Regions from separate parts of the Homo sapiens genome. Here regions 1, 3 and 4 are each linked to region 2. Evidence: fine-mapped expression QTL. A gene starts in region 2. Each other region holds a variant in brackets. All regions are shown on one strand. Distances are from middle to middle. Region 1 overlaps LINC02136 (long intergenic non-protein coding RNA 2136). Region 2 holds the start of ZNF23 (zinc finger protein 23). Region 3 overlaps TLE7 (TLE family member 7). Region 4 overlaps TLE7 (TLE family member 7).

What was found.
Region 1: its variant is fine-mapped to the expression of ZNF23 in prostate (GTEx, PIP 0.97).
Region 3: its variant is fine-mapped to the expression of ZNF23 in whole blood (TOPMed, PIP above 0.99).
Region 4: its variant is fine-mapped to the expression of ZNF23 in whole blood (TOPMed, PIP 0.92).

Annotation. Positions count from the first base shown.
Region 1 is chr16:71,421,080-71,423,763 of GRCh38, forward strand. The region is part of intron 1 of LINC02136 (long intergenic non-protein coding RNA 2136); the gene reads right to left. Among named protein-coding and RNA genes, the nearest start is that of LINC02136, 4.0 kb to the right of the region's middle. The variant G/A (reference allele first, on the strand shown) is at 1,581.
Region 2 is chr16:71,460,783-71,463,466 of GRCh38, forward strand. It overlaps ZNF23 (zinc finger protein 23), which reads right to left and starts at 1,465. Exons shown (of 5, transcript NM_001381984.1): 1 at 1,428-1,465. LOC124903709 (a long non-coding RNA gene) reads left to right here and starts at 1,530. Exons shown (of 2, transcript XR_007065105.1): 1 at 1,530-2,510. RefSeq lists enhancers at 1,064-1,153, 1,424-1,583.
Region 3 is chr16:71,438,682-71,441,365 of GRCh38, forward strand. The region is part of intron 1 of TLE7 (TLE family member 7); the gene reads right to left. Among named protein-coding and RNA genes, the nearest start is that of TLE7, 2.0 kb to the right of the region's middle. The variant G/A (reference allele first, on the strand shown) is at 1,252.
Region 4 is chr16:71,431,197-71,433,880 of GRCh38, forward strand. TLE7 (TLE family member 7) reads right to left here. Exons shown (of 10, transcript NM_001367365.2): 2 at 1,818-2,224; 3 at 1,674-1,696; 4 at 1,469-1,527; 5 at 914-1,129; 6 at 565-806; 7 at 225-366; 8 at 1-78. The coding sequence starts at 2,128. Among named protein-coding and RNA genes, the nearest start is that of TRM-CAT2-1, 6.0 kb to the left of the region's middle. The variant T/C (reference allele first, on the strand shown) is at 1,407.

The sequences.
Region 1 (2,684 bases), 40 kb before region 2:
GGTATTTTTATAGGAATGGCATTCAATTTATAAATCAACTTGGAAGGAATGGGCATCTTGATGATGAGTTGTGATAGCCAAAAACAAGGTAGTCTTCCCACTCCACGTGCTTTTGTGTTTTCCAGAAGTGTTGTAAAATTTTCCTTTTATAGACTTTGCACATTTCTTATTAAGTTTATCTCTAAGTATTTAATCTTCTTTGTTGCTATTATACATGGGGTTTTCTTAAGTCCTCTAACCTAAGTATTGTTTGTGTATATCAAGGCCACTGATTTCTGTAAGCCGATTTTCCAGAAAAAGGCTAAAACTACAAAGGAGATGGTGCTGAGGCTTGAGCGCTGAGCCCAGCTACAGATCTAAGACGATGCGGGCTATGAGGACATGCAAGCATTTTGAACTGGGAGGAGATAAGAAGAGAAAGGGCCAAGTGATTCAGTTCTAAATTTCATCTTTTGTTTTATTATGAAGACAATAAAATCTTGAGGTTATGTTCACTTCAAAGAAAAGAAATGTATGATAAATTTTATACTGTAAATAAATCCTTTTTTGTGGGTGAGTGGCAGGCATTCCTCAGTTATCCCGGTGGGAACCGGGGGAATATAACAGACAGGCCTGAAATTTGGCAGCTCTGGAAGCCACTCCTACTTCCTAGCAGAGGGTCTTGAGAATAACTGGACCCATTCCACACCAGGTGGTGAGGAGAGAGGGCTCAGCCAGGCCAGGAGGGATCCTCCATCTCTAAGTGGCCGCAAGTCAGTGATCAGTGACAATCAGTGATCAGCCAGCCACTGCCTTCCCGTGCTAGGCACATTCTGTCCACTCTATAATATAACCTCCCTTCAGCAGCCCAGTGAAGTAGATTCAGGTATGATCACCATCTTATGGGAACAGAGAGGTTAAGATACTTGTCAAAGGTCTCACAGCCAAGCATGGCAGACCTGGGGATAAATAGATCACTCCAGCAACCGCGCACAGTGGTTTCCAGGACTGACCCCATCATTCACAGAGGAGAAACAAGCCCAGAGGGGGAAGAGACATTCTCAAGGTCACGCAGCCAGTCCAGGTCTCCTGCACAGGGCCCTTTGCATCCATGGCCACGTACTGGGGTGTAAGATGCAATGCAAGGCTTCCCCCTGGAGGAAGGGCCAGAAATTGCAGACAACCCTACCAGAGGCCCTGGGCAGCTTCACTCTGCATGATGGTGGATTTAGTGACCTGCCCCAGGAGGTTCTCCTTTCTTCTTCTTTTTTATTTTATTTTATTATTTTATTTTATCGCCCAGGCTAGAGTGCAGTGGCACCATCTCAGCTCACTGCAACCTCCACCTCCTGGGTTTAAGTGATTCTCCCTCCTTGGCCTCCTGAGTAGCTGGGATTACAGGCATGCATCACCACACCCCAGCTAATTTCTTTGTATTTTTAGTAGAGACAAGTTTCACCATGTGGGCCAGACTGGTCTCGAACTCCTGACCTCAGGTGATCCTCCCACCTCGGCCTCCCAAAGTGCTGGGATTACAGGTGTGAACCACTGCGCCCAGCCTTTATTTTTTGAAACAGGGTCTCTGTCACTCAAGCAGGAGT[G/A]CAGTGGCATGATCTTAGCTCACTGCTGCCTCAAACTCCTGGGCACAAGTGATCCTCCTGCCTCAGCCTCCCAAGTAGCTGGGACTACACGTGCATGACACCACATCCAGCTAACTTTTTTTTTCGTAGAGATAGGCGTTTCACTTGGTCGCCCAGGCTGGTCTCAAACTCCTGGGCTCAAGCAATCCTCCTGCTTTGGCCTCCCAAAGTACTGGGACTACAGGTGTGAGCCACTGTGTTGGGCTCCTCTCTTATTAGTGCCCCACTGTGGAATCTTCTGGACCCTGTTGGTGAAGTCATATCAGGGGCCCCGTATACACAAGGGAATTTTTCCTCTCACTGCATGATGAAATCATTGACTCTCTCAAGATTCAAGTTCCAGGAAGCCCCTAACAAAAAAGAAGAAAGAAAGAAAGGGCCAAGTGCCATGGCTCATGCCTGTAATCTCAGCACTTTGAGACCCCCTGTTGCTACAAAAAAAAATGTTTTTAATTAGCCAGATGTGGTGGTGTGCACCCGTAGTTCCAACTACTCCGGAGACTGAGGCAGGAGGATTGCTTGAGGCCAGGAGTTCAAGGCTGAGGATTGCCCAGGAGTTCAAGGCTGCCATGAGCAGTGATCACTCTGCTGCACTCCAGCCTGGGTGAGAGAGCTTGAGAGCCTGTCTCTCAAACCAAAAAAAAAAAAAAAAAACAAAAAAAAACCACACCTAGAGAGAGATGGCTTTCCATGTCAGAGACACTGGGATGGATACAGTAGAGACAAAACCTGAGTGGATGGCGCTGTCTGTCCTCACAAAAGTGATGACTTCTTGGATGTCTCAGATGCACAGTCTGGTGAGCAGAGAGCTGGGGTAGGCCAGGGAAAGGACCAAATGCCAGCCAAAGACGGGCGCAGTGGCCACCTCTAATCCCAGCACTTTGGGAGGCTGAGGCGGGCAAATCGCTTGAGGTCAGGACTTCGAGACCAGCGTGGCCAATGTGGTGAAACCCCATCTCTACTAAAAATACAAAAATTAGCCAGGAGTGGTGGCACATGCCTGTAATCCCAGCTCCTCAGGAGGCTGAGGCACAAGAACCACTTGAACCTGGGAGGCGGAGGTTG
Region 2 (2,684 bases):
TCAACATTTGTGCCTAATTTTAAAAACTTACACACTAGAGAAACTCTCATATGTAGGAAGTACGTACAAAAATATTATCAGCACATTTTAATAACAAAACACTGAAAACAACCCACATGTCCATTGAAAATACATCGATAAATTTTCATACAGTTTTTACAATGGAACATTACCCAGAAGCTACACACAGAATGAATTTGGAAACTTAACATTGAATTATGCGAGTCCCAGATGACTTATACACACAATGGTGCCATTTATATGAAGCTCAAAAAAAAAATTTAAGTACATTGCTTACAGATACATGCATATGTAATTATTTTTTAAAATAACAGGGCTACAATTAACACAAAAGTCAATATAACTGTTACCTCTAGGGGTTGGAGGCTGGGAGTTGGGTTGAGGAGGAGGAACACATTGATAAATTCAGCAGTACTGGCAATCTTCTCTTTCTTAATTGGGTGGTGTGTTCATGGATGTTTACTACTATATATGTAACATATAAATATATATTTTAAATAAATATATAAACCAGCAAGGATGGGGTGAAATTGAGGACCCAAAATGTAATACAAAGAACAGCCAATGTGCTTAACTATACTACAGTGAACATAACCACACTTAAGTGGTAGGAAAGAAAAGGGGTAAGCAACTTTGGAAAACAGTATTTTGACTAAATACCATAAGAGTAAAGACAAAAAGACCTGTATCCAAGTACTGTACTTTAGGTAGTAAATTTGCTTTTCATGGGGGTATGAATTAGCGATTCTGAGACTACTAAATATATTCTAAAACTGAGTGAATTCGTAATTACGTTGTAGAAGTCATTCCCAGGTCACTGTCAACCCTGAGCCGAGAGAAGCAGGGCTGAGTTACCTTTTGGGACTGACACTGCTCCAGGAGACAATGTCCTCCAAAAGCCGGGCTGCTTCTGCTGCCGGGTGACTGGGAGGGGCTCTGCGCTCCCACTCGGCCCTAATTCATGACCCTATGTCAGGAGCCTGGGAGCACACGGTCCATACTCGGGATGCACATAGGTTAATGTTCCTGCCAGACCTCAGCATGTCAAAAGACTTGTGGTATCACCTCGGGCCGCTTCACGCCCGCAAATATTCCATCTTTTAGCTGCACCGACACATCTTCCCCCGTCGACCAAGTGCTAAATGCTCAGGGCCTCGTGGCTGGGACAGCAACGTGCGTTTCCCCTTCCAATGGGCGCAAGCTATTGAGCCACAAAGACCAAAGCTGGAGTCGAGGAGCGCGGAAGAGCACCCCGGGCCGCCGCCCTGCTCCCTCTCCCAGCCTGGGCCTCCTGGCAGCGTAGGCCACGGGAGACCCTGCAGCACCCAGGGTGGGAGTGCGTCTCAACCGGACCCAGAGCCTGGGGGACAGGGCACGGCACACAGCGCCCGGAGCCCTGCACTCACCTCCGTAGCGGACTGCTCCCCGGCGCTGCCGGAAGTGCGTCACCAGGCGGCCGGGCCTCTCTAGGAGCAAGGTCGCTGCGCCTCGGTGGTGGTCACGCCCGGCCAGCTGTGGCCGCATCCCTGTCGGCTAGCTCGGGTCTGGCCCACGGTGACTGTTACCCCTGGGGAATGGGGCAGGTAAGAATCAGAGCCAAGCGGGGACCCAGCCCGGGGAGGTGAAGCTGCAGGTGCAGCCACGTGTGGGAGTCTTGGAAATGGACCAGTGGATGGCGCGCTGTCACACCCAATGCCCCCTTTTTCTAACAAATAGTTTGTAATGTCCATCTTATTCTCCTGACCTGATATTCATATATAATGGCCTAGAAAATCATACATAACATACACACCTACATATTAAAAACTAATGTTATGCCTTAAGTGTAATGAAAGAGAAAAAAAAGAGGACCGTCATCTGTCGTTTAAAAACACATACTTCAATGTGTTTGGTCTTGGCTGCTGCAGGAGACCTAATAAGGTGGTCGCCTTTACACATAGACGTTGTCTGAGTGCCACAGCCACAAAGCTGTGACTTACATTGTTGCAAAAGTCACAAAATTATGATCCAAAATGGCAAACATGTTTTCGTGAAGTTCTGAATGAAACACAGGACAATCGTCTCTTGATTATACAATAATTACATTCCTGGAAGATCAGTGTATGTTAAAACTGTGCAAAAATACATGTTTATCCAGAAAACAGGTTTAGATTCAGATAATTTAGAAATAGAATTTTCACCTACCTGAATGTTCAGCAAGACATTTGAAAGTGTGAACATTTTTTCAGTGGGCAGGACTGTCCTGTACATTGCAGGATCCTGGCTCCTATCCACAACGCTAGTAGCAATGTTACCACTGACACCAAATATAACAAAATACCTACCATAAAATTCCAAAATGAGCCCTGGGGGAAGGGAGACAGTACTAAATGCCACTGGATTGGACGACCCTTAAAATCCCCACCCCCTCACACACCCCCTAACCCTGGTAATGTGGGCTTTTCTTCCTTCCAGCTCTGATCCATCCAACGCTGCTGCACTGGAGACTGGTATTTGGCTCCCACTTGCCTCTGTGGCTTCTTATCACTCCCATTCATTCCCTGACTCTACCTCAGCCCTACATGCTAAAAATGCTGTTCTCTAAATCTAGAATGCCCTTCCCTTCCCATTCCTACCCTCCATCTTGACTGTTACTGGAAGTGTGAGCTCAAATCCCATTTTGC
Region 3 (2,684 bases), 22 kb before region 2:
AAAAAAAAAAAAAAAAAAAGCGAAAATAGGGACAGCCCGAGGAGTTGCAAGAGTCAAAGAGAGCCGTGGTTCTTATACCCAGAGGCAAGTTAAAGGCAATTGGTGCTTTAGAAATAACCAGATGGACAGAGAGTGCATCCTGTTGTCCCTCAGCCGTGGATAGAGGGACCCAGCTTGAGCTCAGGATGTGCCATAGTTGAAATTCAGGTGTATGTGGGCAACAGGTGGGACCCCCTTGACCAAAACTGTCACAACCAGGGTAAAGTTGATTCCACGCAGAGAAAGCAAACAGGGCTAATGATAGTAATCAAACACACCTGTGCCCCTTCCCCACCACCTTTCCATCCCCGTGGCCAGTTGGCACAGTCTTACTGACCCCCGCTGTGCTGGGCACTGAGGAGATGAGGCTGGGCCCACAGAGCTGACCATGACCCGTGTGGAATTCCCTCTTTGAAGGGAAACTGACCACTGAACTGGAGATTACAAGTCAGAGTGGAAAGTGACATGGTGGAGGAGGAGGGCTGTAAAGGGGTGGGGTGTGTGAGCCCAGAGAAAGTCACATAACCTGGAAGTGAAAGGTGATAGGGAGTACGTAAGGTCAGAAGGATGGAAGGACTCAGCGGGGGAAGCAGGGTAGCAGAGAGCATAGGAGAATGTTCCAGACAGACAGAAGGGCAGAGGCAAAGGAATGGATTTTAGCAATTGGGAGAATTTTCTAGGGGCTGGAGCACAGAGGGTGTGTGTTTTGGAGGCAGGGAGGGCAGGAATGTGTCCTCCTTTCCAGAGAGAGTTGGAAGGCATTTGGGGGTGGTTCTGAGCTGGGGGAGACATAATCAGAGTTGGGTTTCAGAAGGAGGACTGTAGCTGTTCTTCTAGGGATAGAATGGGGGGAAGGGACAAGACTGGAGGCTGGGAACCAGCTAAAAGAAAAAGACACTCCACATCACCAGTCATCCGGGAAATGGAAATCAAAGCCACATGTAATAGATCACTTCACACACCCTAGGATGGCTATGACAGCCACCAAAACCACAGAAAATAACAAATGTTGGTGAGAATGTGGGGAAATTGGAACCCTCCTACGTTGCTGATAGGAATACCACGGAGCAGCCACTGTGAAAAACAGTTTGGCAACTCCTCAGAGTTAACATGTGACCCAGCAGCTCCACTCTTAAGTATATGCCCCCAAAAATGGAAAACAGGGACTTAAACATTTCTTGGACACCAGTGTTCACAGAAGCATTATTCACA[G/A]TAGCCAAAAAGAAACAACCCAAGTGTCCCCCAATTGAAGAATGGATCAAAATGTGGTGTAAATATACAACGGAGCATTACTCAGCCATAAAAAGAATGAAGCTGTGATACACACTACCACATGGGTGAACCTGAAAATATTATGCTATGTGAAATAAGCCAGACACAAAAGGCCAATACTGCATGATTCTATCTACATGAAATATCCACAAAAGGCCAGTCCTTAGAGACAGAAAGCAGGTTAGTGGTTGCCAGGGACTGGCAAAGGGGAATGGGACGCCACTTCTTAATGGGTCTGGAATTCCTTTTGGGATGACAAAAAAGTTCTGAAACTAGAGGGTGGTGATGGTTGTGCAACATTGTGATGTACCTAATGCCACGGAATTGTACACTTTAAAATAGCTAAGATGAGCCGGGCACCTGTAATCCCAGCTACTCGGGAGGCTGAGGCAGGAGAATCACTTGAACCCAGGAGGCAGAGGTTGCAGTGAACCGAAATCGGGCGACTGCACTCCAGCCTGGGCAACAGAGCGAGACTGCGCCTCAAAAGAAAAAAAAAATAGCTAAAGTGTTAAATTTCATGTTATGTGTATTTTACAAGAAAGACCCAAAACCAGACATGGGGTCATGAGTTAGGGGTCCTGCAAATCCCAACAGCATTTTTCCTTCTTCCCCTTTAGCCAGCAAACTCCAGGCACTTTAGCTGGTGGTTTTCTTCCCTTTGCTCCCCTAGAAGAGCCACACAGCTGCAGGTGTCCCAGCCCGGAGGCTATGGGTAGCTGTCGTCAAATGGCTGGTGGGACCCCAACACCTAGTGGGCCAACACAAAGGTCAGAGATGGGGTCATCTGGGCAGAACTGCGACTGTGAGCCTCCAGATCTTTATTTGAGGGCTGACGCGCCCTCTGGCGGGCACCTGGAAGGGACAATGCACGGCCAGGCCCCTCCTCCCACCTCCTCCCTCACTGTCACGGGGAGCCCCAACTCCCCATTCCTTGCCAAGGCCCCTTCCTCCTAGCATGGTGACGCTGCCCTTCCCACAAGCACGGTGGCGTCTCCCGCATCGTACATTGCTCTTCCCACCCACCTCGCGTCCCGTCCCTGCCATGGGAAGTTTGCATTCCCAAGTCCTGCATTCCGATTTCTGTCCTGGGTCCATCTCTTATCTCCCCAGGGACCTGTTACCAAAGCCCCCTGCTCAGTCACTCTCAGGAGCCCGCCGGCAACTTTCCGCCTCCCCCACAGTCCTCGACAGCAACTCTACAATGTGGGCCTCGCAGCAGGATTTCACTCGATTTATTTTGTAAGAAAAGTTCACTTTTTTTTGTTGTTGGTAGAGACAAGGGTCTCACTTTGTTGCCCAGGCTGGTCTTGAACTGCTGGCCCCAAGCAATCCTCCCGCCTCGGCCTCCCACAGTGCTGGGATCACAGGCG
Region 4 (2,684 bases), 30 kb before region 2:
GTGAAGGAACACGATATCACTCGTTCTCAGGCCCGCCAATACCCATTCTTCACCGGGGTCGTGGGTAATGCTGAGGATCTGTTCGTGGAAGCAGGTTTGAGGTCAGCACTCAAAGTTGCCAACGCCATCCTTTGTGCCCACCTCTCAAGCTCACACTCCCACCCCTGCCTCCATGCATGGCTCCACTACAGGTGGCATTCTGCCAGTGGTGGCCAGCCGGGCACCTCATTCTGTAAGTTGTGTTGGTGCAGCCTCTGGTAGCTCCTCAGGTCCCAGGAATACAGGATGGTGTCTTCACCTCCTGTCCAGAATATATTGCCGGTGATGTCCACACATCGGGACCCGTATACAGGAACTTCGTGCTTCCTGGTGGGTGGGAAAACAACTCAGAGGGTCACTGAATGGTTTGGGCCCCCGGGAAGTTTCAGGGTCAGGAAGCCCCTAGGAGTACCCCAGATATATCTTCTACACTGACTCGCCCAGCCCTAATGCAAAGAGGGGAAAGAGCCTCACTGGCAAGCCCTCCCCCAGGTACACCTGAGTGGCTCTGGAGAGAGGTCATACCTGATCAAGATTTGGTTCTGCAAATCCCAAATCTCAACAAATCCATGGAAACAAGCCAAACAGATATGGGCATCAGAGGAGACAGCCAGAGAATAGCACGTGGGGCCCGTCGAGGTCAGCTGTGCCCTGACCTGGGGGGTGGGTGCCAAGTCCCAGAGAGTCACGGCCTGGGACGCACCCCCTGTGATCAGGCTCCGCTCATCAGGGAACAGCTTGCAGGTAACAACACGGTCCTGGGGATGCTGTAAGGAAGGGTTCACACACTGGTATCCCCTTGGGGCACCGAACCTGGGTCTCACGTCAGAGGCCCTGTCAGAGTTCCCTGAGTCCTGCTTTGGATCTCCCTCACCTGCAAGTCCAGCTGGGCCCGAGGGGCCTTCTCCCCCGCATGCAGCGCACTCTCATCCCATACCCTGATGTAGCCAGAGCCACACGTGTACACGTGGTGGGTTGAGCCGCTGATGGCCACAGCGTAGACTCTCTTTCCATGGAAGAGTGTGCCAACCTTCCAGGAGCCCTGTGGGGCCCTCTTCTGCCTGACCACAACTTCATCTGGAATGGGGGGCTAGGCAAGGAGAGGGTGGGTAGCAGTGGCCCTGACCTGCTATCATTAATAGGACAGTCCACCCCGTCTTCCAGCTAGATTCTTAACCACCCACCCATCCACCCACCCAACCGCAGAACCTGGCCCCTGGTTCCCAGGGTCACAGCTCTTGAAGAAATGACACTGTGAGCTGAAGACCCTACTTCTCAGGATGGGGGAACAGGGAACATAGCTCAAAAGGAGCAGGAGCCCAGGACACCCCCCTACCTATGGGAGAGAGAGTGAAAGTGTGGACACA[T/C]GGTTTCTTGATTGGGGGTAGGTGGGAAAGGAAGGATCCTGAGTATGAAGTTGGACACTTACAATTGCTCTGAGCAATGAGAGGACTTCTTCACTGGGAGAGGAAGAAGAGTAAGGCTGGCCTGCAGGGAAAGAGCAATGCCCACCTGCTCACAGAGTCCCACGCTTCAGGGAGAAGCCTGCTCTGTTGACACCAGGCCCCCGTTCCTAGTCCCCCATCTGGGGCCCAGCTTGGGCAACCACACGCACCACTATGACTGGTACTCACCAACCTCAGAACCCAGTAGGAAGCTACAACACATGGAGAGAGGGAGGGAGGAGACAGAGTGTGAGCCACAGAGCTTCCTGCTGGGATGCCCTCTCCCCAGTCCAGTTTGCCACCCCCACTGAGTCAGGTTCAAGCAAGACCTGCCTTGGGCTGGACTCTGCTGCTTCTCCTGGTTGTGCATCAGGGAGCCCAGCGGCCTGGAGCTCAGATCTACCCAGGCCCTGGAGGTGCCACTGCTGCTGGGTCACCGTGCTTGTCTCTTGATCAGCAGGGCTGTGCTGTATTGGGGGGCCCGGGGGCTGCCAGGGCACTCCCAACAGACTGCCCAGTTGCTGCTGCACTTGTGGCTCAGGCTGAGAGGAAACGCCAGAGCTTTCCAGCACATCCCTCCTCTCCTCTGGCTCACCATAAGCCCCGAACATTCTGAGCGATGCCTCTTCCTTCTCTCCACTCATGTTCTTAGATCAGTGAGGTGTCTGGACCACCCGGTTCTAGGACTTGACAAATAGACCCGCCAAACAGACACCAGGTTCCCAGTGTGTCCTGATCCCCTGTAAGGTGAAAAAAAAGAGACGCAGCTATGCACATGTGCTCTGTAGGGTCTCTTTAGAAGGGGCAGAGAATGTCTCCTTTGGTGAAAAGATTCAAAAGAGTGGTTGCCAACTAGCTTTTCACATTAGGTGTTGGCGGCAATGATGTCAAGGGTGAAAGCGTCACACAAGCACTTTGAGATGTTAGTGCCAGGCATTGTATTTTTCCTTTTATGCAAATGGACTGTATTTCTGGTCATTTAAAAATCAAACTCACCTGCCGGGCACGGTGGCTCACACCTGTAATCCCAGCTCTTTGGGAGGCTGAGGCAGGCAGATCACAAGGCCAGGAGTTTGAGACCAGCCTGGCCAACATTGTGAAACCCAATCTCTACTGAAAATACAAAAATTAGCCGGGCATGATGGCACGTGCCTGTAATCCCAGCTACTTGGGAGGCTGAGGCAGGAGAATCACTTGAAC